Homo sapiens: one gene and its partners. The protein of the gene in region 5 purifies or fractionates together with the protein of the main gene of each other region. This does not show direct contact. Each region holds a gene or a part of one and is shown on either strand. Other genes may lie near its edges.

The links.
Region 1: the proteins of ALK (region 5) and DNAJB12 purify together in Homo sapiens (affinity purification with mass spectrometry; one large-scale study listed by BioGRID and IntAct). This does not show direct contact.
Region 2: the proteins of ALK (region 5) and PRKCQ purify together in Homo sapiens (affinity purification with mass spectrometry, with the first as the bait; one study listed by BioGRID). This does not show direct contact.
Region 3: the proteins of ALK (region 5) and RAB35 purify together in Homo sapiens (affinity purification with mass spectrometry, with the first as the bait; one study listed by BioGRID). This does not show direct contact.
Region 4: the proteins of ALK (region 5) and KRT74 purify together in Homo sapiens (affinity purification with mass spectrometry, with the first as the bait; one study listed by BioGRID). This does not show direct contact.
Region 6: the proteins of ALK (region 5) and CDK13 purify together in Homo sapiens (affinity purification with mass spectrometry, with the first as the bait; one study listed by BioGRID). This does not show direct contact.
Region 7: the proteins of ALK (region 5) and P4HA1 purify together in Homo sapiens (affinity purification with mass spectrometry; one large-scale study listed by BioGRID and IntAct). This does not show direct contact.

Annotation. Positions count from the first base shown.
Region 1 is NC_000010.11:72,337,920-72,341,419, forward strand, and holds part of DNAJB12 (dnaJ homolog subfamily B member 12), read right to left. Parts: intron 3,252-3,500; coding exon 3,066-3,251; intron 2,950-3,065; coding exon 2,870-2,949; intron 393-2,869; coding exon 283-392; intron 1-282. UniProt on the Homo sapiens protein: Acts as a co-chaperone with HSPA8/Hsc70; required to promote protein folding and trafficking, prevent aggregation of client proteins, and promote unfolded proteins to endoplasmic reticulum-associated degradation (ERAD) pathway.
Region 2 is NC_000010.11:6,426,648-6,430,276, forward strand, and holds the end of PRKCQ (protein kinase C theta type), read right to left. Parts: intron 1,716-3,629; coding exon 1,560-1,715; 3' UTR 501-1,559; downstream 1-500. UniProt on the Homo sapiens protein: Calcium-independent, phospholipid- and diacylglycerol (DAG)-dependent serine/threonine-protein kinase that mediates non-redundant functions in T-cell receptor (TCR) signaling, including T-cells activation, proliferation, differentiation and survival, by mediating activation of multiple transcription factors such as NF-kappa-B, JUN, NFATC1 and NFATC2.
Region 3 is NC_000012.12:120,106,754-120,110,253, reverse strand, and holds part of RAB35 (ras-related protein Rab-35), read left to right. Parts: intron 1-1,786; coding exon 1,787-1,837; intron 1,838-3,500. UniProt on the Homo sapiens protein: The small GTPases Rab are key regulators of intracellular membrane trafficking, from the formation of transport vesicles to their fusion with membranes.
Region 4 is NC_000012.12:52,568,063-52,570,843, forward strand, and holds part of KRT74 (keratin, type II cytoskeletal 74), read right to left. Parts: intron 2,772-2,781; coding exon 2,607-2,771; intron 1,923-2,606; coding exon 1,797-1,922; intron 328-1,796; coding exon 107-327; intron 1-106. UniProt on the Homo sapiens protein: Has a role in hair formation. Specific component of keratin intermediate filaments in the inner root sheath (IRS) of the hair follicle.
Region 5 is NC_000002.12:29,192,274-29,194,930, reverse strand, and holds the end of ALK (ALK tyrosine kinase receptor isoform 1 precursor), read left to right. Parts: intron 1-1,008; coding exon 1,009-1,707; 3' UTR 1,708-2,157; downstream 2,158-2,657. UniProt on the Homo sapiens protein: Neuronal receptor tyrosine kinase that is essentially and transiently expressed in specific regions of the central and peripheral nervous systems and plays an important role in the genesis and differentiation of the nervous system.
Region 6 is NC_000007.14:39,956,756-39,960,255, forward strand, and holds part of CDK13 (cyclin-dependent kinase 13), read left to right. Parts: intron 1-3,500. UniProt on the Homo sapiens protein: Cyclin-dependent kinase which displays CTD kinase activity and is required for RNA splicing.
Region 7 is NC_000010.11:73,086,867-73,090,366, forward strand, and holds part of P4HA1 (prolyl 4-hydroxylase subunit alpha-1 isoform 2 precursor), read right to left. Parts: intron 1-3,500. UniProt on the Homo sapiens protein: Catalyzes the post-translational formation of 4-hydroxyproline in -Xaa-Pro-Gly- sequences in collagens and other proteins.

The DNA of each region.
Region 1 (3,500 bases), on a different chromosome or scaffold from region 5:
GTGTGTACATGTGTATCGTGTGTGTGTATGTGTGTGTGCACATGTGTGCATAGTTTTAGGGAAAAGTTCTGTAGCTCTCGCTGCAATTTCTTAGGGGACCATAATCCTAAAAAGCTTAAGAGTCCTAGTTGAATAGAGAAAGTATATTTTCTTGATTCGAAGCCAGGTTTCTGCATTATGATCGCACACTGGCTGGATCAGGATGGGAAAGAAGGCCCCTGATGGGGCTGAGAATTTAAAGCCCCTTGTCTGCCCATGGCCCGGCCTCACCCATGTACTCACGGTCTTGGACTCAGACTGTAGGGTGGACTGGAGACCATGAGCTGGCTGAGAGCTGACACGAGAATCAGGATGAGGATAGGCATCAGCTGCACAAACACCCCTAGCCCGCCCTGGAGGGAAGAGCCAATGTCACTCTGCTGGACCTGGGTGGGGTGTGGTGTCAGCCATAATCACCACTAGCTCCCCTAGAATAGTGGAGCCTGGGGAGACATGACACCACTCTGCCGTTCCCTCCACGAGGCTCCAAAACACAGACGCTCCTTCACCTGCCAGCTTTCCCAGATAAAAACAAAGCAGCAACTGGTGTGAAATACAGGAGGAAGTGAGGTGTCTGCATTTACTTTTGACAGAATGCCAAAAAAAAAAAAAAATCAGCAAAAGTTGCTTCCTCCAGGAGAATGGAAGGCAGGGCTGGAAGGAGACATGCAGTATATACAAGTTTTTGAGATGTGAACCACACAAATATATTACCAATTTAAACATTATGGCCAGTGTGGCGGCTCATGCCTGTAATCCCAACACTTTGGGAGACCAACATGAGAGGAACACGTGAGGCCAGGAGTTCAAGACCAGTCTGGCCAACATACACCCCCATCTCTACAAAAAATAATAATTAAAACAAAATAAAAATTAGAAATAGCACTGGTTCTAGGGTGCAGAAAAAGCAAACAAACAAAAAAAGAAGAATTAGAAATAAAAATTAACAAATATATTCACTGTGTGATAATCTGTGATGTTAAACTCTTCTGTTGTTAGATACAAAATAAAAAAATTTTGATCAGGGGCAATGGCTCATGCCTGTAATCCCAGCACTGTGGGAGGCTGAGGCAGGAGGACCACTTGAGCCCAAGAGTTTGAGACCAGCCTGTGCTCAAACAGCAAAGTAAGACCCTATCTCTACAAAAAATACAAAAAATTAGCTGGGTGTGGTGGTGTGGGCCTGTGGTCCCAGCTACTGGGGAGCCTGAGGTGGGAGCTTTGCCTGGGAGGGGAGGCTCCTGCACTCTAGCCAGGGTGACAGAACGAGACCCTGTCTCAAAAAAAAAAAAAAAAGGCCGGCATGGTGGCTCACGCCTGTAATCCCAGCACTTTGGGAGGAAGGGGCAGGCAGATCACGAGGTCAGGAGTTCGAGACCAGCCTGGCCAACATGGTGAAACCCCGTCTCTACTAAAAATACAAAAATTAGCTGGGTGTGGTGGCGGGCGCCTGTACTCCCAGCTACGTAGGAGCCTGAGACAGGAGAATCACTTGAACCTGGGAGGCAGAGGTTGCAGTGAGCCAAGATTGTGCCACTGCACTCCGGCATGGGCAACAGAGCGAGACTCCATCTCAAAAAATTAAAAAAAAAAAAAATTGAATAAATATTGTCAGAGCAAAAGGAAACCCCTTCCGCCTGGCCAGAATTTAAAATGTTTTGCAATTGTCCACAATATTTTAATTTTAGCCAGCTAGCTGTTCTTTGATCTGTGGCATACAAAATGTGTTTGAAGCACTGTCTAGTTATAATTTTTATACTTTTTTTTTTTTTTGAGACGGAGTCTTGCTCTGTTGCCTAGGATGGAGTGCAGTGGCACGATCTCGGCTCAACACAACCTCTGCCTCCTGGGTTCAAGTGATTCTCATGCCTCAGCTTCCCGAGTAGGGATTAAAGGCGCCTGCCACTACGCCCAGCTAATTTTTGTATGTTTAGTAGAGACGGGGTTTCACCATGTTGGCCAGACTGCTCTCAAACTCCTGACCTCAGGTGATCTACCCACCTTGGCCTCCCAAATTTTTGTAAATATCTTTTTAAAAGTATCTTTTGGCTTTTTAGCAAGAAGAGTCGGCACCTATGTTGTCATCCTTTAAAATTCTCTCAGTGGCAGAGCGCAGTGGCTCACGCCCATAATCCCAGCACTTTGGGAGGCTGAGGCGGGTGAATCACCAGAGGTCAGGAGTTCAAGGCCAGCCTGGCCAACATGGTGAAACCCCATCTCTACTAAAAATACAAAATTAGCCGGGGGTGGTGGCACGCACCCGTAATCCCAGTTACTCGGGAGGCTGAGGCAGGAGAATGGCTTGAACCCGGGAGGCGGAGGTTGCAGTGAGCCGAGATCGCGCCACTGCACTCAGCCTGGGCGAGAGAGCAAGACTCCATCTCAATTAAAAAAAAAGAAATTTCTCTCACAAAGTTGAGAGAAAATAGCTGAGACCCATGAAAAAAATGAAAAATAAAATAAAATTCTCTCACAAAGTGTAACTTTCCATTGCTTAGAGGATGTCACTTTGGCCTTACCAGCGAGCGGTCTGCATGGGAGCCTCACACTCAAACCTGGCTGTGGGTGGGGTTTCTGGTTCCACTCCCCAGCCAGGCCAGCAAAGCCGCGCTCCCGCCGGCAATGTGGAGCATGGCTCCCTCGTGTGGCGCCCTCTGGTGTCACTCAGCAGAATGGCAAGGGAGGCCCAGAGGGCTCCTTGGCTGAGAGTTATGGGGACTCTGCTGGTCCCAGAATGGACAGTGTGGGAGGGAACACCCTCCTCCAAGCCCCCTCCCTGGGGTGGATTTGGTGCCCTTCCCGCGCTGTCCCTGGCGCCCTCCTCACTCACATCACCCTGGTTGTCCCTGCGGTCCTGCCTTTGCTGGTAGGTATAGCGCATGCGGCCGTTGCTGTAGACGTGGACGTTACCTGGGGGTCAGAGGGGCTGAGTCAGGAGCCAGGTCTGTTGGGAAAGGGAGAGGCTGGCATGCCATTCCCACCATCACCCCAGGGATACCTGGCTGTGGGGAGGGTGGGGAACTTACTAGAAGGGAAGCCGCCGCCAAAGAACATGTTGAAGAGGTCTTCAGGGGAGATGTCGGCCTCAAAGCCACGGTGGAAATCCCCATGCCCATGGCCGTGCCGGGCCGCCTGGCTCTTGTCATCGCCGAACTGGTCATACTGCTTCCTCTTCTCCGGGTTGCTGAGTACCGCATATGCTGTGCCAATGGCTGGAGAGGAGGAGGAAAGGTCAGGCCTGAGGATCCTGGGGTGCGGGGGGAGGCTCCCATGGCAGCCGAGTGCTCACTTTTCTCAGGTACTCAAGCAGTGCTTTAGGAAGCAGACGTCCTTGGGGTGGGCAGGAAGCTTGGCCAGTGTAAGGAGGGGGCATGCAGGAAGACCCCTCAGTGGATCTGGGCAGCCTGGCTGGGTGGAGGGTAACACAGGCTCCTTGTTCTCCTCAAGACAATGGTCAAGCT
Region 2 (3,629 bases), on a different chromosome or scaffold from region 5:
GTCAGGAAAATGTTCCAGCACACCTGCAGACTGTCAACAGTCTGCTTATATTAATTATTCTATTTTAAATATAATATCTAAAGTTATTTCCAGCCATGTGATGAGGTAGGCTAGTGACTCCGAATATTATGCAGACTTGCTTTTCTTACAATTGCCTTAATGTCATCTGACTTCCTCACCCTTTGTCTTACTCTACTCCTGCCTCAGCCTCCCAGGTAGCTGGGATTATAGGCCCCCGCCACCACGCCTGGCTAATTTTTGTATTTTTAGTAGAGACAGGGTTTCACCATATTGGCCAGGCTGGTCTCGAACTCCTGACCTTAGGTGATCTGCCCACATTGGCCTCCCAAAGTGCTGGGATTACAGGCGTGAGCCATCGTGCCCAGCCAATCCCCCAACTGTAAAACATCATCTCAATGCTAGCTACATTTTGAGGACTGACACAGCAGAAGCAAGTTCTTGTGGGGGGCAAGCGGGGAAGTAAACGATTAAGAGGACTCTTTTTTTTTTTTTATTCCATTTTTACACATCCACCTGTTTGCCATGAAGTCACAACATTTTATCAAAATATACACACAGCACAAATACCTTTAAAATGTATGGTTGGAATTCTAATTCAACTCAATTGACTGCTGCAAACAGCATGCATGGGCCATTGATCTTGAATGATGCCTACGGAGGGGCTTATGAGTCATGAAATCACCAGTCATGGCACGAGAAGGGGTTAAGGTTCTTTTCCCAGGAGACTTATGCACTTCATTTCTTTTCTTGTTATAGTGTGAGAATGGCAGTGAGTGACTGTGCCAATACTGGAGTCTGCTGAGAATGGGTGGATGGAAAGGTTTTTACTGGCAAGGGTGAAATGATACTATCTTTTCTATCTTGACAAGATAACAAGCGAAGGTGTCTAGCAAACCTTCCCTCTCACTTTCCACTTGTCCTCTTGACCATGGATTTCATGCCCAATCAGGATGAATGGATTTGTAGATCTCAAGTTACAAGCTATGTTTATTGTAAAGAATTCCCATAAAAACCTATCCAGGGCTGGCCCCCCAGCCATTTACACATCCACAGATAGGAATAGAATAAAACGGGTTAGTGATTACTTGTCTGCGGCTGAGTGAGATCCGCTACTAGACCAGGCAATGGGGCCGTTTCAGTCTTGAGACGTCTGTACTCCGTTTGCCCCTGATTCAACAAGCATTTCATTGATCAGCAGTTGGCGCCCAGGTGAAGAGCCATAATTTATTGCAGTATCAAGTCTTGAAACCTTTCCAAGTGCGGAGACCCATCTTTCAAGTAAATAACTATGGTTAGTAATGACCTAACTTCAGGAGCGTCTGTGAGACATGTCAGGAGACGAGACACACGGCATCGTCATTAGTGAAGTAGACTTGGTTTCTGCTACAGATAAAAGTCACATGGGGGCGAACGGGTCTCAGTCTTTATTGTTGAGTGTTTCTTTCTTTTTCCAAGTTGAAAAAGGAACCCAAGCAGTGTCTCTTGAACCAGTTCCCAGGGAGAAGGCAAATTCTTTCCTGTCTCTGGAGGGGCAAGATTCAGGATATCAGCCGCTCCATCCCGGGGTTCATGAAGGAAAAGTTCCTGAACATATTCTGGTCCATGCTGTTGATCAGTGCTCTGTCGGCAAATGACAGCCGGGGCTTCTCGTTTAAGAATTCTTTGTCGAAATTGCTGCAGTCAAATGGTGATTTCTTAGTCAGAGTTTAAGGGAAGAAAGAAAGAGAAGAAAAATCAGCCATTAAGTTCATGATCTTCACTTTTGTTATCTAGGCCGTGATCTGCGTATGGCAAAGTTGGTGTTTGCAGAGACACTAAATGGAGGCAATGCCTACAGATGACCATGCCCAGCTCTCATTGAACATGGCTGTGATCCTGTGTCCTCAGCTTAATAATAATATAAATTCATAAATTCACAGAAAGACTACGACTGTAGACATTCAAATGGGATCTAATGTTTCTAATGGTTTACATGAAGCAGGGTTGGCAACCTTTGAAAAAGTGATCCACCTGAATTTGACCTCTGCCTCTTCAGTTTTCATGGAACACAAGGTGGGGATAAGGGAGGGTGGTGGGGAGAGGGAGTGAGGGGGTGTGAGCGGAGGGATGGGAAGAGAGAAGGAATTTCACAATTACATATTCCTGTTCTTTTATCAACGTTCTTGGCTGTTGTCAGTCCCCTGCCCTTGTTAATTTTATTAGTAAGTATCTTGGGCTTTTTTAGACAGCACAGACTGGGACAGACTCCTTTCAGACCACTTGGTCCATTGGTTTTCATGGCAAAAAAACCAAAACCAAACCAAACAACAGAGAAAGGGAAAGCAAACATCTATTTCATACATGCTGTTCAGTATGGTGTTCAATTCAGTGTCCCAAGATTGAGAACAACCATTATCAACAGAAAGTGCTATGAACACAGAGAAGCGAAATGAAGAACCAGGCCCCTCCCACCCTCCAAGGGGCCCTGGGGCTGTGAGGTCAATGGCAGCTCAGACCACAGGTCAGGGAAAGTTTCCTACTGGCAGAACTGGGAATGTCCTTTAGGGTAAGCTTAGATCAAAGTTTTGATTTTTATGTGCAAAATATTAAGTCAATTTTAATCTGCAGTGGAAGGTGAGACATGGTTTAATAGTTCTGATAGCTAAAAACAAGGTAAAATTTTTATTTTATCACAAATGACTAACCCACGTATTAGATGTGGTTCTGTCACAAGTAATTAGAGTGCTTGAGGCTGGCCTGTTGGGTCCTTGGAACATCACTGGAGCTTGGGACAGATGTTGAGAACAACTATTCTTGCCCTGGGAATGAGATGCACCTGCTTCTTCTGGCCATTCGCTATCATGACTAATAGCCTGTGCGTTCTCTGGGGTGGAATCTGTTGGGAAGTCCATGAGCCTGGCCCCCTTCAGCACGGATATGGCCCATGTCTATCCAGGCAATCACAGGGAATGGTTAAGGCTGGCAAACCCACAACTTTGCTCTACTCTTTTAAAAATCATTATTTTTAGAAATTGTGATATACATAACTTAAAATTTACTTTCTTAATGACTTTTTTTTGTTGTTTTTCTAAAAAGTTTTATTTTTGGAGACAGTCTCTCGCTCTGTCACCAGGCTGGAGTGCAGTGGTGTGAACCCAGCTCACTGCATCCTCTTGGGCTCAAGTAATCCTCCTGTCTTGGCCTACTGAGGAGTTTGAACTACAGGCATGCACCACCAAGCCCACTTAATTTTGTAGAGATGGGGTTTCACTATGTTGCCTAGGCTAGTCTCAAACTTCTGGGCTCAGGCAATCCTCCCACCTCAGCCTCCCGAGTAGCCAGGATTATAGGCGCCCGCAACCATGCCCAGCTAATTTTTGTATTTTTAGTAGAGACAAGGTTTCACCATGTTGGCCAGGCTGACCTCGAACTCCTGACCTCAGGTGATCCACCCGCCTCGGCTTTCCAAAGTGCTGGGATTACAGGCGTGAGCCACCATGCCCAGCCCAACCTTGCTTTATTTTTGACTTCACTTTATGGTGGCCCGTCTCGCAGGTGAGCCAGGTCATTCTGCCTTTGCTGATGTAGCTTAATGACTTTTGCCAGTGAGGACATAAATGGAAATGTAC
Region 3 (3,500 bases), on a different chromosome or scaffold from region 5:
AAATCTGCACTTTGTTTCAGGGGGTTTCATAGCTTTCGTGGCATTTTCATTAAAAATCTAACAGGAGTGAGATGTTGGAGCCCCCACAGGTCATTTTTTCCAAACTTCCTGAACCAGACGCAAGACTCCCAGCAATGTGTATTGGGAGGAGTGTTAGCACTCTGGAGGAGTCCGGCCTGGATGCAGATCTCAGCTTTACTGCTGCTCACAGAGGCACTTAGGCCGGCCACTCTGGGCCTGAGGTTCCTCATCTCAAGAGATGTGGCCAGAATTATAATCAAAGAGGCATCCAAGGGCTCACCACACACACAGCCCGATGCATGTGAATTCTTTGTGGTCAATTAACTTGGCTGGCCTCAGGGGTGTTGGAGATTGGGGACAGGATAGGAGGACATGGAACAGGTGTACTTGGCAGGCTGAAAGCACTGTGAGTTGAAGTCAAGGGGAGAGGTCCAGGCGCAGTGGCTCATGCCTGTAATCCCAGCGCTTTGGGAGGCCCAGGCGGGAGGGTTGCTTGAGGCCAGAAGTTTGAGACCAACTTGGGCAACATAGCAAGACCTCGTCTCTACAAAAGATTAAAAAAAAAAAAAAAAAAAGCCTGGGCAACGTAGCCAGACTCTGTCCCTACTAAAAATAAAAAAATTAGCTGGGCATGATGGTATGCACATGTGGTCCCAGCTACTCGGGAGGCTGAGGTCAGAGGATCACTTGAGCCTAGGAGTTGGAGGCTGTGGTGAGACATGATTGCACCATTGTACTCCAGCCTGAGTGACTGAATGAAACCCCATTTTTTTTTTTTTGAGACAGAGTTTCGCTCTTGTTGCCCAGGCTGGAGTGCAGTGGCATGATCTCAGCTCACTGCAACCTCCGCCTCCCGGGTTCAAGTGCTTCTCCTGCCTCAGTCTCCCGAGTAGCTGGGATTACAGGCATGTGCCACCACGCCCAGCTAATTTTGTATTTTTAGTAGAGACGGGGTTTCTCCATATTGGTCAGGCTGGTCTTGAACTCCCGACCTCAGGTGATCCGCCTGCCTCGGCCTCCCAAAGTGCTGGGATTACAGGCATGAGCCACCGCGCCTGGCCTGAAACCCCATTTCTTTACAAAAAAAGTGGGGGAGGCCAGATGTGTACATGTTTGTGCTCTAAGCAGCCAGGAGCTGCTGTGGCTGGTGCATGGTCTGAGCACATGTGGGCTGCTGCCCTGATGGGTATAAGGCAGACCCTCCACTCCACCAGCCCACCCGGCGGGGACATCAGCCAGAAAGATGGTAGCCATTGAGTTCTAGCTATGTGGGCCTTGGTTTCCTCACCTGCAAAATAGCCCTGATGATCTCAAGGGTCCTTTCCCGCTCTACAGCTCTTCATTTTGGGCGGCTCCCTAACTGATGTGCTACAACGTGCTGTGCACTTTTCTAGGGACCATGTTGTAGACGCACTTGGGGGCCGTTTCGTGTGGTTGACCTTCATTCTGCTTTGTCGTCTGGCATCTCCCTTTGGGCCAGCCCTCAGCCTAGGGCCTGGGCACCAGTCCCTTTCTCATCTCTCCCCCAGGGGATTTGGGAGCAGCTTGTCTTACACAAGGACGAAGGAAAAGGTCAGGGATCGAGTGGAAGAGATGTTCTTGGTGTGTGGCCGCTCAGGGAGGTGGAAAGAGCATTGAGAAGTGAGCTGGGTCCCACCGAGCTTCTTAAGAGTTGGGACTGAGGCATCCTCTCCCGGAAGAAGGGCTGGGGCTGCGGGGAGGGGACCCACCTGCCCCCCTCATCGCAGTGCTTTCTCTCTTGCAGGTGTGGGCAAGAGCAGTTTACTGTTGCGTTTTGCAGACAACACTTTCTCAGGTGAGTCCTCCCCTGCAGTGCTGCTGGGGTGTCGTTTTTGTTTGTTTGTTGACATCCCCTCCCTGGCACCAAACAGAGTTGCCTCTGCCTGATGTTGGGAACTGTCTCATTCTGGTTGCCAGAGGAGGGAAGAAGATGGAGTGGGGCTTAGGACCTTGTGGCGCTTCTGTCAGAAGCCTCTGTGGTCTGTCTAATGCACCTGCTCACGAAAACCCTTTGGCTGGCCCATCATTTTCCCACCCATGGTCCAAACAGGAAGGTTCCCATAACAGCGTCTATGGTGCCACCCGGGACACAGTCCCTGCTCCTGCCCCCTATGCCTCCCTGGCAGCCTGTGGTCAGCGTGTGTCTTTCTGATTTCTTTCTGCGCTCCACATGCAGGCCTTTGTGGTTCATCTGAGTGCGGTGGGCTTTCTGTGCTTGAAGGCACCACATGGTGCACTGACGCTGCTGTTACATCGTGCCTGACTTCTGGTTGTGTTTTCAGCGATGCTTAGCTACTTGGGATATAGGCGATATTTATTCTTTTTTTTTTTTTTTTTTTTTTTTTGAGATGGAGTCTTGCTCTGTCACCCAGGCTGGAGTGCAGTGGCGCGATTTCGGCTCACTGCAACCTCTGCCTCCTGGGTTCAAGCAATTCTCCTGTCTCAACCTCCCAAGTAGTTGGGACTATAGGCACCTGCCACCACGCCCGACTAATTTTTATATTTTTAATAGAGATGGGGTTTCACCATGTTGGTCAGGCTGGTCTCGAACGTCTGACCTCAGGTGATCCACCCACCTTGGCCTTCCAAAGTGCTGGGATTACAGGCGTGAGCCACTGCGCCCAGCTGATACTTATTCTTGTGCACGTGTTTCTGTAGAAGTGGGGTTACTGGCTTACAGGGTGTATGCACTGAGAATTTTCATAGGTACTGCCAACCTGCTTTTCAAAGAAGCTGGAGTCATTTAATCCAGTCCCACTGAAGGGTGGAAAGTGCCCCTTGTCAACCCTGGTCAGTGCTGGATCTTAGTAGCTGTCTTCATTCTTGCTGAGCTGATAGGCAAAAAGGGCTAACTTGTTTACATTTGTATTTCCCTAATCACTGGTAAGATGGAACACATTTTTGTTTGTTAAATACATCAGGTTCAGCCGGGTGCGGTGGCTCACACCTGTAATCCCAGCACTTTGGGAGGCCGAGGCGGGTGGATCATGAGGTCAGGAGTTCGAGACCAGCCTGACCAACATGGTGAAACCCCGTCTCTACTAAAAATACAAAAATTAGCTGGGCGTGGTGGTGCATACCTATAATCCTAGCGACTGGGGAGGCTGAGGCAGGAGAGTTGCTTGAATCCGGGAGAGGGAGGTTGCAGTGAGCTGAGATGGCACCACTGCACTCCAGCCTGAACGACAGAGCGAGACTCCATCTCAAAAAACAACAAAAAAAATCAGGTTCATTACAGATGCTTTGGGTGGGGTTGACATCTCTGATTATCTTGTGGAGAATTCCCTCTGACATGGCTGGGCTGCCTTTAGAAAGTGATTCCGTTGGCCAGGCGCGGTGGCTCACGCCTGTAATCCTAGCACTTTGGGAGGCCGAGGCGCGTGGATCATGAGGTCAGGAGATTGAGACCATCCTGGCCAATATGGTGAAACTCTGTCTCTACTAAAAATAAAAAAATG
Region 4 (2,781 bases), on a different chromosome or scaffold from region 5:
CTCTTGCTTGTATTGGCACTAACCATGTTGTTCTCCAGGTGGCCCCTCAGCCAGACAGGAGCCACACCCCAGTCCCTTCTCACACTTTCCCCTCCACCCCACCTACCTGCACTCCTCGCCCTCCAGCAGCTTGCGGTAGGTGGCAATCTCCATGTCCAGGGCCAGTTTCAGGCTCATGAGCTCCTGGTACTCGCGCAGCATCCGCGCCAGCTCCTCCTTGGCCTGGTGCAGGGCGCCCTCCAGCTCATCCAGCTTGGCCTGGGCATCCTTCAGGGCATTGTCTCCCCGCTGCTCAGCGTCAGCGATGGCCGTCTCCAGGCTGGCACGCTGAAGGGCAAAGAACAGAGAGACCATCAGAACAGAAAATTACATTTAGCTCATACCAGTTAAGTAGAACAATGCCCTCATTTTGCAGATGGGGCCCTAGGTGACAAGGAGTAAAAGCTGCAAAGCCAACACCAGAACTTTGTCTCTTCTATTTTCTATTGCAGAGGAGTATTCAAAGCTGTTATCACATGAAGCTGTGGAAGCAGTTGCATTTCAGGAGGTCAGGAAGAAATGTCGATGTTTGCAAAGTTAGATAGTGCCTGAGACCGGAGGCCACCAGTATCTACAGATTCAAAATACTACAGGTTCAGGAAAATCATGCCCGATCCCCTAGCAAGGCCAGCCCTGAGGATGAGACAGTATGCCACGGTCCCACTGTGATCAGATTCCTGCTGCAGGACCTCTCCCCATTGGGGATCCTTCTGATCTGTTAGCATCCAGATGAGTGTTTCTGGACTCCAGCACTCTGGGGAGAGTCTGTGTGAAGGCTCCCACATCTGGCCTTCCCTTAGAGCAGGAGGATAAGGCCCTAAATTATAGGCACAACCTCAGAAGCTGGACTCTGATGAACATCTGGGGGGCATTGCGATGCCTGTTGCTAACAGAGAGGGAGGAACTATGCTCATGGAATTTGTGAATCGGCCAAATGTAGAGTCGTAGAGTTGTCCCTGTGTTTGCCTGCAGAGCATGGAGGGTTGTGGGGGCACCAGAAGGAGAACAGGCTCAGATCTTTCCGCTGGTCAATTCTATCACTAGCAGAGCAGACCTGGTTCTCAGAGAGGTCACAGGAAGGATCCTCCAGCCTCCAATATCATCTCCCCACTGACGCAGTGTTTAAAATTTGCTGCTGTCAGGTAAGACAGGCCCCCCACCCCCACCCCCCCGCCCACTAACATGGAAGTAGTACCATGGCACAGGGCAAGGGAACCCAGGAGGGCTTCATCGACAGCTGTGTCCCTCAGTCAACAGACCATGCCCCACTCCGAGAGCAGGAACCTGGTGTGGCCAACAGAGGCGCCTGATGCATACCCTCTGCACCCCACACATGTTCCATGTCCAGTGGGAGGAGGAGACAGAGGGTCTGCCCTCAGAGGGGGCACCCAAAGGGGACATGGGGCAGGTTCATTGGACACAGAAAAAATCTGCAGAAGGGGAACCTGGGTTCTAATCCTAGCTCCATTCATTACCAGCTGGGGGCTCTGGGAAAGTCCCTTCCCCTTCCCAGCCCAGTTGCTTTATCTGCAAAATGAGGAGTCAGAGAAATAGGTTTGAGGCTCCTCCCAGTTCTGGGCGGGGTACCAGCTCTGATGGTAGGGTACCGAGGCAGGGTGGGAAAGGGAGACTGTGGGTGGCCGAGGGACCCCTAAGCCCAGCAGGGGATATTTGCTTGTTCCCAAAGGGCAGGCCCCATTTCCTCATCCCAGAGCCTGCTGTGGAGACCGGGAGTTCTTTGTGGGGCTGCTGCCCACCTGCTTCTTCACATTCCCGATCTCACACCGGATCCTCTGGATGAGCCGGTTCAGCTCCACCATCTCGCTCCTGGTGTGTTTCAGGTCGTCACCATGCCGACTGGCTGCCAGCTGCAGCTCCTGGATCTGGTTTCCCAGAGATAGGAAGTTGGTGATGAGACAAGGGCACTGGGGAAGGGTCCTGTAAATAAGCCACCCCTGCCACCCTGGCTGTCGGTGGGATTTAACGGAACTGAAGAGGAGTGCTGGGACAGGGTCCTGGGGGCCCAGGTAAGGGGTTTTCTCCCTGACAGCCCCAAACATAGTTCCATTACTCAGTTTACCCAAAGCATAGTTCCATTACTCAGAGCACTCCTCGCCTTCCATTTCCTTTTGAAAGTCTTCCCGTGGGGATCAGGAAAGAGCTACAGGCTTCTCCTTCTCTCACTCGCCCCCCACCAAATTCACCCATGGCTACACTCCCGCAAGTCTGTGATTCTCCCTCTGCCCTGTGGCAACATGCCCCCATTCCTATAAGTGTGTTTGTTTTACCACCTCACTTCTTTCACCTGCAACAGAGAGGAACAGGCAGTTCGTGGATGGAGGAAAGAAGTGAGGGATCCTCTCTGTTGCATATATTCAATCCATACCAGTTTCATGATTTATCTTTGATAACAAGCTCTGCTAAGAATTCCTTTTTTCCTTGAAGCCTTGGTTGGAACCTTTCTTTCATTCAGCATGCCCACAAAAGTATTCCTCACATTCACTGTGCAGGTGACCCCTCCCAGGAAGCGAAGGGCTGCTGTGGGAGGAGACCCATTCGGTGACCACCTTGGTCTGGTACAGGGCCTCGGCCTCGGCCTTGCTCTTCAGGGCGATCTCCTCATAATGCATGCGGACCTCAGCGATGATGCTGTCAAGGTCCAGGTCCCGGTTGTTGTCCATGGACAGGATGACAGAGGTCTCACTGGCGTGAGTCTGGATCTGAGCGATCTCCTGCATTGAG
Region 5 (2,657 bases):
TCTTCTATGTTACAGTCTATTACTGTGAAAATGATCTAGCACACAGTTGTTTTTGTAAATGGTTTTCCTCACAGCACTTCAGCATTTCCTGGGTTGTGCAAAGGGTCCCTCACATCCAGACTAGTTAAAGAATGCCTGTAATCCCAGCACTCTGGGAGGCCGAGGCAGGTGCCTCACCTGAGGTCAGGAGTTCGACACCAGCCTGGCCAACATGTTGAATGAAACCTTGTCTCTACTAAAAACACAAAAATTAGCGGGGGTGGGGGGGTGGGGGGGTGGGGTGCATGCCTGTAATCCCAGCTACTCAGGAGGCTGAGGCACGAGAATGGCTTGAACCCACTAGGCAGAGGTTGCAGTGAGCCAAGATTGAGCCATGGCACCCCAGCCTGGGCGACTGAGCAAGACTGTCTCTAAAAAACAAACACAAAAACATGCACTGTGGTACCTGCACATGTGATGATGTGGCACAGGAAAACTTACAATCAAGTGTAAAGTACCCAAATGGAAATGGAAAGCAGCTGGGAAGAGATCAAAAAATAAACCCTGTAGGCCAACATGGCATGTGTCTCCTCTCCTCCTCCCCCCAGCCCCCCACCATCACTCTTGAAGTCAAACACATAGGCTTTTATTTTTATTTTTTCCAGTTGGAACGATTTTAGTGGAACTAGACTGGAATAATACAAATAATAATCTTAATTTTTTTTTTAAATCCACTAATCTTTAAAAACTGGCCAAAGGTCTCCTCCTCTGCAAAGCTTTTCCTGCTCCACTCTGTCCCAGGCACCCATACACACTTCCATTATAGCGCTTATCCTCTAAGGTCTTTGAGGATAAGGATGACTTCCCATTCATTTTGTATGCCCCAGTGCCTGTAAGTTACTATATTCTCAATAAATCCTGGTTTCCTCATCTGTAGAATATGTTTAGATAACATCATCTCTAAGGTATCTTCTAGATCCAACATTTTTTGTCTCTGATTCAAAGTTTTAATAATTTCCCCTACGGCAGGACCCGGATGTAATCAACACCGCTTTGCCGATAGAATATGGTCCACTTGTGGAAGAGGAAGAGAAAGTGCCTGTGAGGCCCAAGGACCCTGAGGGGGTTCCTCCTCTCCTGGTCTCTCAACAGGCAAAACGGGAGGAGGAGCGCAGCCCAGCTGCCCCACCACCTCTGCCTACCACCTCCTCTGGCAAGGCTGCAAAGAAACCCACAGCTGCAGAGATCTCTGTTCGAGTCCCTAGAGGGCCGGCCGTGGAAGGGGGACACGTGAATATGGCATTCTCTCAGTCCAACCCTCCTTCGGAGTTGCACAAGGTCCACGGATCCAGAAACAAGCCCACCAGCTTGTGGAACCCAACGTACGGCTCCTGGTTTACAGAGAAACCCACCAAAAAGAATAATCCTATAGCAAAGAAGGAGCCACACGACAGGGGTAACCTGGGGCTGGAGGGAAGCTGTACTGTCCCACCTAACGTTGCAACTGGGAGACTTCCGGGGGCCTCACTGCTCCTAGAGCCCTCTTCGCTGACTGCCAATATGAAGGAGGTACCTCTGTTCAGGCTACGTCACTTCCCTTGTGGGAATGTCAATTACGGCTACCAGCAACAGGGCTTGCCCTTAGAAGCCGCTACTGCCCCTGGAGCTGGTCATTACGAGGATACCATTCTGAAAAGCAAGAATAGCATGAACCAGCCTGGGCCCTGAGCTCGGTCGCACACTCACTTCTCTTCCTTGGGATCCCTAAGACCGTGGAGGAGAGAGAGGCAATGGCTCCTTCACAAACCAGAGACCAAATGTCACGTTTTGTTTTGTGCCAACCTATTTTGAAGTACCACCAAAAAAGCTGTATTTTGAAAATGCTTTAGAAAGGTTTTGAGCATGGGTTCATCCTATTCTTTCGAAAGAAGAAAATATCATAAAAATGAGTGATAAATACAAGGCCCAGATGTGGTTGCATAAGGTTTTTATGCATGTTTGTTGTATACTTCCTTATGCTTCTTTCAAATTGTGTGTGCTCTGCTTCAATGTAGTCAGAATTAGCTGCTTCTATGTTTCATAGTTGGGGTCATAGATGTTTCCTTGCCTTGTTGATGTGGACATGAGCCATTTGAGGGGAGAGGGAACGGAAATAAAGGAGTTATTTGTAATGACTAAGCATGGGGAAAGACATTCTTTACTTGAAAAAGAAAAAATCATAGACAACTGAAATGTCACTTTAGGTGACGGTTAGATGCTTTTAATTGTGCTGATTCATCACCAATTGTAAAAAATGTCGTGAGTAGTTCCAGTAGTATAGCAGAAGTGTGTATATACTCATCTCAATGAAATGCATACATTCCAAGTGCTTTGAGTAGGATAAAGCACCAATACAGATCCAGAGATTCAAACATCCTATTAAATATACCTCATGCCTTAAGAAAATCCTCCTACTAGAAGTGAAAAACTGAGTGTGAGGTTTCCTACTGGATTTAAAACTCAAGATTTAAACTACTTATTTAAAAAATTTCCACTAATTAAATTTTGATCATTTAAAAGCAAAAATTTTAAGCAGCAGTGATACATGGAAGCATGGAAACATATCCATTTGTGGGCATAAGCGTCAATACATTTTAGGCCAAAACCTTCTATTCGTTTCAGTCATGGAATGAACTACC
Region 6 (3,500 bases), on a different chromosome or scaffold from region 5:
TTTTGTGTTTTTTGTAGTGATGGGTTTTACCATGTTGCTCTGACTTGTCTTGAACTCCTGGCCTCAGACAATCCTCCCGCCTGGGCCTCCCAAAGTGTTGGGATTACAGGCAAGAGCAGCTGTGCATGGCCAAGTCTAAACTTCCTAATGTTCCATCAGTTAATGCCTTTTATGATCTGGCTCCATTCTATCACAGTTCTGTTTTCAAAGACATTTTTATTTCTATTTTTATACTTGCTGTTCTGTTAGCTTAAATGATAAGAGACACTCCAAACTCTCTTTTGCTCTTCATCTCCAGCTTTGCATTTAAAACTCAGCTCAAAAATCCCACTGTCGTGTGTGTGTGTGTGTGTGTGTGTGTGTGTGTGTGTGTGTGTTTTGGTAGAGATGGTGTTTTACTGTGTTGCTCAGGCTGGTCTCCTGGGGTTGAACAATCCTCCTGTCCTTGCCTCCCAAAGTGTTGGGATTACAGGCATGAGCCAGTGTGTCCAGCCTTAAATCCCACTATCTTGAGACCTTTTTCCATTCATCTAGATAAAAGTTAGTTTTTTTTCCTGTGCCCCCACAGCACTTTATCTTTGTTGTAGAGTTTTAAAAAATTCTGTTTAATATCTGCTTAGTTGGCTGGCTGCCTTTGTGTTTTCCCTACTAGATTGTAAGCTCCTAGAGGACAAATTACAGAGCTTATTTATTGGTGGTTTAATTTAAATACATTTTTTCTCTACAGATTAGTGCAAACCAGTCTGCACAGATGCGAGTTATATCTGTAAACTTGCTTGGTATTTTGGTTTACATACACTCTCATACTCTAGGATAGGGCAGGTAATTGTTTCGATTTATAAGGAGGGAATTTAAGAACCTCCTTCTAGCTTCTACTTTATTAGAATGAGTAGAGGATGCTGGGAGTCACTTTAGTGTGAATGGAATAAATTCAGACCTAGTGTTTATATTTGCCCTCTGTTGTGCTGATCAAGATAAATTCTTGGTGCGTTTGAATTAATCTTTAAAGAGAAAATTTTCTGAGCAGACATTATGTCAAACTTATTTCCCAACTCTGAAAAATTGTAGCTATTTTTGAAAAACCAGTTGGAAGTGAATGTTGCTTAATATTCACATATAAGATAATTTTAATTTTTTCCTTTATTTTGGACTTTTTTTGTGTGAATATCATTTTGTTGTTGTTATTTTGGTTTTGGTTGGCTTTGTTTTCTATAAATTTATAAGCTTTGAAGTGGGTGTTGGAAGCAAAAGTACCAAGCTAAAATCAGAAGCATTACTTGTTTGCAGTGATTTTGTTCCTTGAATTCCTGCACATTTAAATTGTGGAAGAACCTAGTGTTTTTTATGTATTTGGAAAGTAAAATTGATGTACATTAGAGGATAAATATAGGTAAAACTGGAATGTAAGTAAAATGGAAATGAGGTTAGTGAGAGGAACCGAAAATGGTAAATGATCTACACGCCTCCCTGCTTTTCTGTTTGCATTTTCAGTTGCATAGGGGCACTTTCACTGGGATATTTTATTGGCATTCCAAACTCAATTTACCTAACATTAAATTATTTCACCTTTCTTAGAGTCATTTTTTTTCTGTTACTGCTCTTTATTATTTTTCACCTGTTTGCAAGCATAATAGAGGCTAATGGTAGAAATTTTCCGTTAGTATAGAAAAGTATAAGAGATTAAAAGGCCCCTTAGGTCCAGCTACCTGATGAGATGATCACTCATGACATTTTGATAAATATTTTTCTAGACTTTTTTATGCATATATGCACAGGGATGTATGATTTTTCCATAAGCGGGAACATGTAACAATGCTGTCTTGTAGCCTGTACTCCACAGTACAGCATACCATTTTTATTAGTAGCTCCTAGTATTCTGTTGTATGGATATAGCATAAATTGTTTGGCTGAATCCACTTTGATAAATTCTTAGTTTTGTTTTTTTTTTAATTTTTGCTATGTGTGTATATCTAAAGCAAATTTTTTTTTGTGTATTTGTTCCATTATCTTTAGATTGAATTTCCTGGGGATAAAATTTTTGAGGCAAAGGTGGTATATACATTTGTAACATTGATACACTTTCAAAATGCCTTTCAGAAGGCTTTTACAAATTTACATTTCCCAACAGTGTGGAATTACCCATTTCCTGAGTCTCACCAACACTTGGAGTTGTCACATATTCCATTATTGGTTTTTTTTGTTGTTTTGTATTTTTAGTAGAGATGGGGTTTTGCCATGTTGGCCAGGCTGATCTTGAACTCCTGACCTCAAATGATCTGCCCACCTTGGCCTTCCAAAGTGCTGGGATTATAGTTGTGAGCCCCTATTGGTGCCTGGCACCATTATCGTTTCATTCATTTGCATTTCTTTGATATTTAATAAGGTTTAATATATTTTCATCTGTTTACTGGATATTTTAATTTCTTTCTTTTTTTTTTTTTGCTCTTGTTGCCCAGGCTGGAATGGTGCGATCTCGGCTCACCGCAACCTCTGCCTCCCGGGTTCAAGCGATTCTCCTTCTTCAGCCTTCCGAGTAGCTGGGATTACAGGCATGCGCCACCATGCCCAGCTAATTTTGTATTTTTAGTAGAGACGAGGTTTTTCCATGTTGGTCAGACTGGTCTCGAACTCCTGGCCTCAGGTGATCCACCCGCTTCAGCCTCCCAGAGTGCTGGGATTACAGGCGTGAGCCACCGTGCCTGGCCTTTTTCTTTCTTTTTTTTTTTTAATTGAGACCGGGTCTCACTCTGTCACCCAGGCTGGAGTGCAGTGGCACCATCTGCTCACTGCAACCTCCACCTCCCAGCTCAAGTGATCTCTCACCTCAGCCTCCCGAGTAGCTGGGATCGCAGATGCATGCCAGCATGCCCAGTTAAATTTTTTATTTTTGGTAGAGACAGCGTTTCACCGTGTTGCCAAGGCTGGTCTCGAACTCTTGAGCTCAAGCAGTCTGCCTGCCTTGGCCTTTCAAAGTGCGGGGATTACAGGTGTGAACCACTGCACCTGGCCAGATGTTCTAATTTCTTGATTTTTTTTTTTTTAAATTAACTTGCAAGACCTACTTGTGTGTTATAGCTACTAACTTGTTTTTTTTTTTTTTTGCGGCATTAGCAAGTATTTTTCGTGAGCTTGTCTTTTATCTTTTAACCTTCTTTATGTAACGTTTTATTTTAGGACTAGGTTTTTGATTTGTCTCTGTGTGTGTGTGCACACGTGTGTTTTAAGTGGTAGTAGTTTCTCCCAGGTACCTAGTGTCAAACTTTAGTAGTACTTTTATCTCTTCATAGTTGTAATGAACTTCTTGTTCTGTAAAGTTTTTTCTTTTTTTTTTTTTTCCAGTGGTCTTTTGGTCCATACATTTATCTTGGAATGCTTTGTTAGTTCTGCTTGCTTTTAGATTTCTCTTTGAGCCCCTCCTGTTCTCTGCATTCAGATTTAAAATACCACTTTCATTTGATCATTTTTTTTTTTCTATAAGATACTTACAGAATCAAATACTT
Region 7 (3,500 bases), on a different chromosome or scaffold from region 5:
GAGGTTGCAGTGAGCCGAGATTGTGTCACTGCACTCCAGCCTGGGTAAAAGAGTGAGAGTGCATCTCAAAAAAAAAAAAAAAAAAAAAAAAAAGAGGAAATCAACCTAAGTTCTCATTTCACTTGGGTAAATACCTAGGAGCGGGAATGTTGGGTCATATGACAAGTATATATTTACCTTCATAAAAAACTGCCAAACGTTTCTCCAAAGTAGCTACACTATTTGCCCTTCCAACAGCAAAGGATGAAAGTTTCCATTGCTCCCATTCTTACCAGCATTTTGTATTGCCGTTTTTTCCTTAGTTTCTCTTAATATCTTAATTTTCACAATAGACATATAGTACTATCTCATTATGGGTTTAATTTGCAATTCCATAATTACTAATGATGTTTAATGCCTTTATTTTTTTTTTTTTTTTTTGAGACAGAGTCTCACTCTGTCGCCCAGGCTGGAATGCAGTGGCACAATCTTGTCTCACTGCAACCTCCACCTCCTGGGTTCAAGTGATTCTCGTGTCTCAGCCTCCTAGGTAGCTGGGATTACAGGCACGTGCCACCACACCTGACCAATTTTGTATTTTTAGTAGAGACGGTTTCGCTATGTTGGCCGGGCTAGTCTTGAACTCCTGACCTCAGATGGTCCACCCACCTCAGCTTCCCAAAGTGCTGGGATTACAGGCATGACCCACCATGCCTGGCCTATGTTTAACACCTTTTGGGGTGTTTATCTGCTGTTCATACACCTTCCTGCATAGTGTCTACTCAAATCTTTTGCTCTTTTTAATTAGGTTGTTTACTTTTTTTAATAGAGATGGGGTCTTGCTATGTTGCCCAAGCTGGTCTCAAACTCCTGGATTTTCAAGCAATCCTCCAGTCTTGGCCTCCCAAAGTGCTGGGATTACAGACGTGAGCCACCATGCCCAGCTTTGAGTTCCTTATACAGTCTATTTTTTGTCAGATATGTGATGGGGAATATTTTCTCCCAGTCTGTGAAGTCTTTTTATTCTCTCAACAGTGTGTTTGGAAGAGCAGAATTTCTTAATTTTGATGAAGTCTAATTTATCAGTTTGTTCATTTATGAATCATGTTCTTGGCATCATGTCCAAGAAATCTCTGCCTGACCCATGGTCAAAAATATTTTTGTCCTATGTTTTCTTTCAAATATTTTATAGCTGTACATTTTACTTCACAATCTATGAACATTTTTTAAAATAGAAACGGGTCTCACTCTTGCCAAGGCTAGTCTCAAACTCCTGGGCTCAAGCAATCCTCCTGCCTCAACCTCCCAAAATGCTGGGATTACAAACGTGTGCGACCAGACCCGGCCTACGAACCATTTTGAACTAATTTTTGCATACAGTGTCAAGTACAGATTGAGGCTCTAATAAAAAGATTTCATTTTGATGTTTGAGTGCAGATTGCCTTCAGGTCCCACACCTCTCTCCCTTTTGTCCCACATCTGGGTAAGTCTGTAAGAAAGCCCAGGTACTCCCTCCCTTGGTATTGGTGTAAAGTTGAAACCATATAAATACCACACTTGGGGACCAGTATTCCCTCCCTTGGTACTGGTGTGAAGTTGAAACCATGTAAATACCACACATGGGGACCATCAAACAAGTTCCACCTTCTGGTCAATAAAAACCAAAGCCACCCACCCTGTTTCACTCTTGCTTCATCCTGGACTAAACCTAAGTCCTTGACCTTGAGGAGTCCTTTTGCTGTTTACTGTGTGATTAAACTTTATTTCATATCCACTGGTGGATTCATGTCACTTGTCCCAATATTCACATAAATTCCTGGGCAAGGGACTGCCCAGTGTCCAACAGTGGATACTTGGTGCCCAAATAAAACAAAGATTGTTTTTTCTTTGCATATGAATATTCAACTGTTCCAGACTATCCTCTGTTGAACTGCCCTTAAACTTTTTCAAAATGAATTGACAATTTTTGTGTGACTAAATTCTCTATTTTGTTCAATTGATCTGTATGTCTATCTTTTCTCCAATACCACAGTCTTGGTTATTGCAGCTTTAAACTAAGTTGAAATCAGGTAGTATGAATCTTCCAACTTTGTTATTCTTTTTCAAAATTGTTTTAGCTTTTCTAGTTCCTTTGGTTTTCCATATTAATTTTAGAATCGGCTCATTAATTTCTATAAGAAATCCTCTGAGATTTGGACTAGAAATGTGCTGAATCTATAAATCAGTTTGAGAAGAGTAGGTATCTTAATACTGAGTCTTCTAATCCATGAACATGATATAATCAGTGTTTCATAATTTTCAACATACAAATATTACACACCATTTGAAAAGTTAATACTTAAGTATTTCATGGTTTTTAGTGCTAATGAGATGGGAATTTTTCACTTTAGTTTCTAATTGTTCATTATTAGTATATAGAAATACAATTTACTGTTGTATATTGACCTTCTAAGCTACAACTCTGCTGAATTAACCTATTCACTAGAGCTTTTTTGAAGAGTCACAGACATGTTGTCTGTGAATAGAAACTGCTCTTTGAAGCACACTGTTTAAAGAATGAAGACAAGCCAACAACTGGGAAAAAATATTTCCCTATCACATCTAGCTATTGCACTCCTAGGCATTAATATAAGAGAAAAGAAAGCATATCTCTCTCCAACAACTTGTACATGAATGCTCATAGCAGCTTTATTCATAATAGTCAAAAAGTGAAAACAATCCAAATGTCCATCAAAGGGTAAATGGGTTAAAAAAAATCATGGTATATTCATAAAATAAAATACTATTCAACAATAAAAAACTATGAACACATAACAACATGGATGAATCTCAAATTATGCTGAGTGTAAGGAGATTCCCCGTGCTAAAAAAAAAAAAAAAAAGCGTATATACAATTCCATTTTTATAAAATTCTAGAAAATAAAAACTAATCTTAAGCAACAGAAAGGAAACAATGGTTTCCTAGGGATACAGAGAGGGTAGTAAGGAGCAAAAGAAGGGATTACAAAAAGTCATAAGGATACTGCCGATGCCCCGGCTAGAGTGCAGTAGCGTGATCTTGGCTCACCGCAGCCTTAATCTCCAGGCTTTGGGTGAGTCTCCCACCTCAGTCTCCCAAGTAGCGGGGACTGCAGGCACACAACACCACACCTGGCTTTTTAATTTTTTTGTAGAGACAGGGTTTTACCATGTTGCGCAGGCTGGTCTTGAACTTCTGGGCTCAAGCAGTCCTCCTGCCTCGGCCCCCCAGAGTGTTGGGATTACAGGTGTGAGCCACTGCGCCTGGCCAAGTATACTCTTTTTTGAGACAGAGACTCATTTCGGTCACCAGGCTGGAGTACAGTAGCACAATCACAGTTCATTGAAGACTCAACCTCCCCAGCTCAAGCAATCCTCCTGCCTCGGCCTCCCAAGTAGCTAGGATTACAGGCAGGCACCATCACACCCAGCTAATGTTATTTTATTTTGTGTAGAGATGAAGTCTTTCTATGTCGCCCAGGCTGGTCTGGAACTCCTGGGCT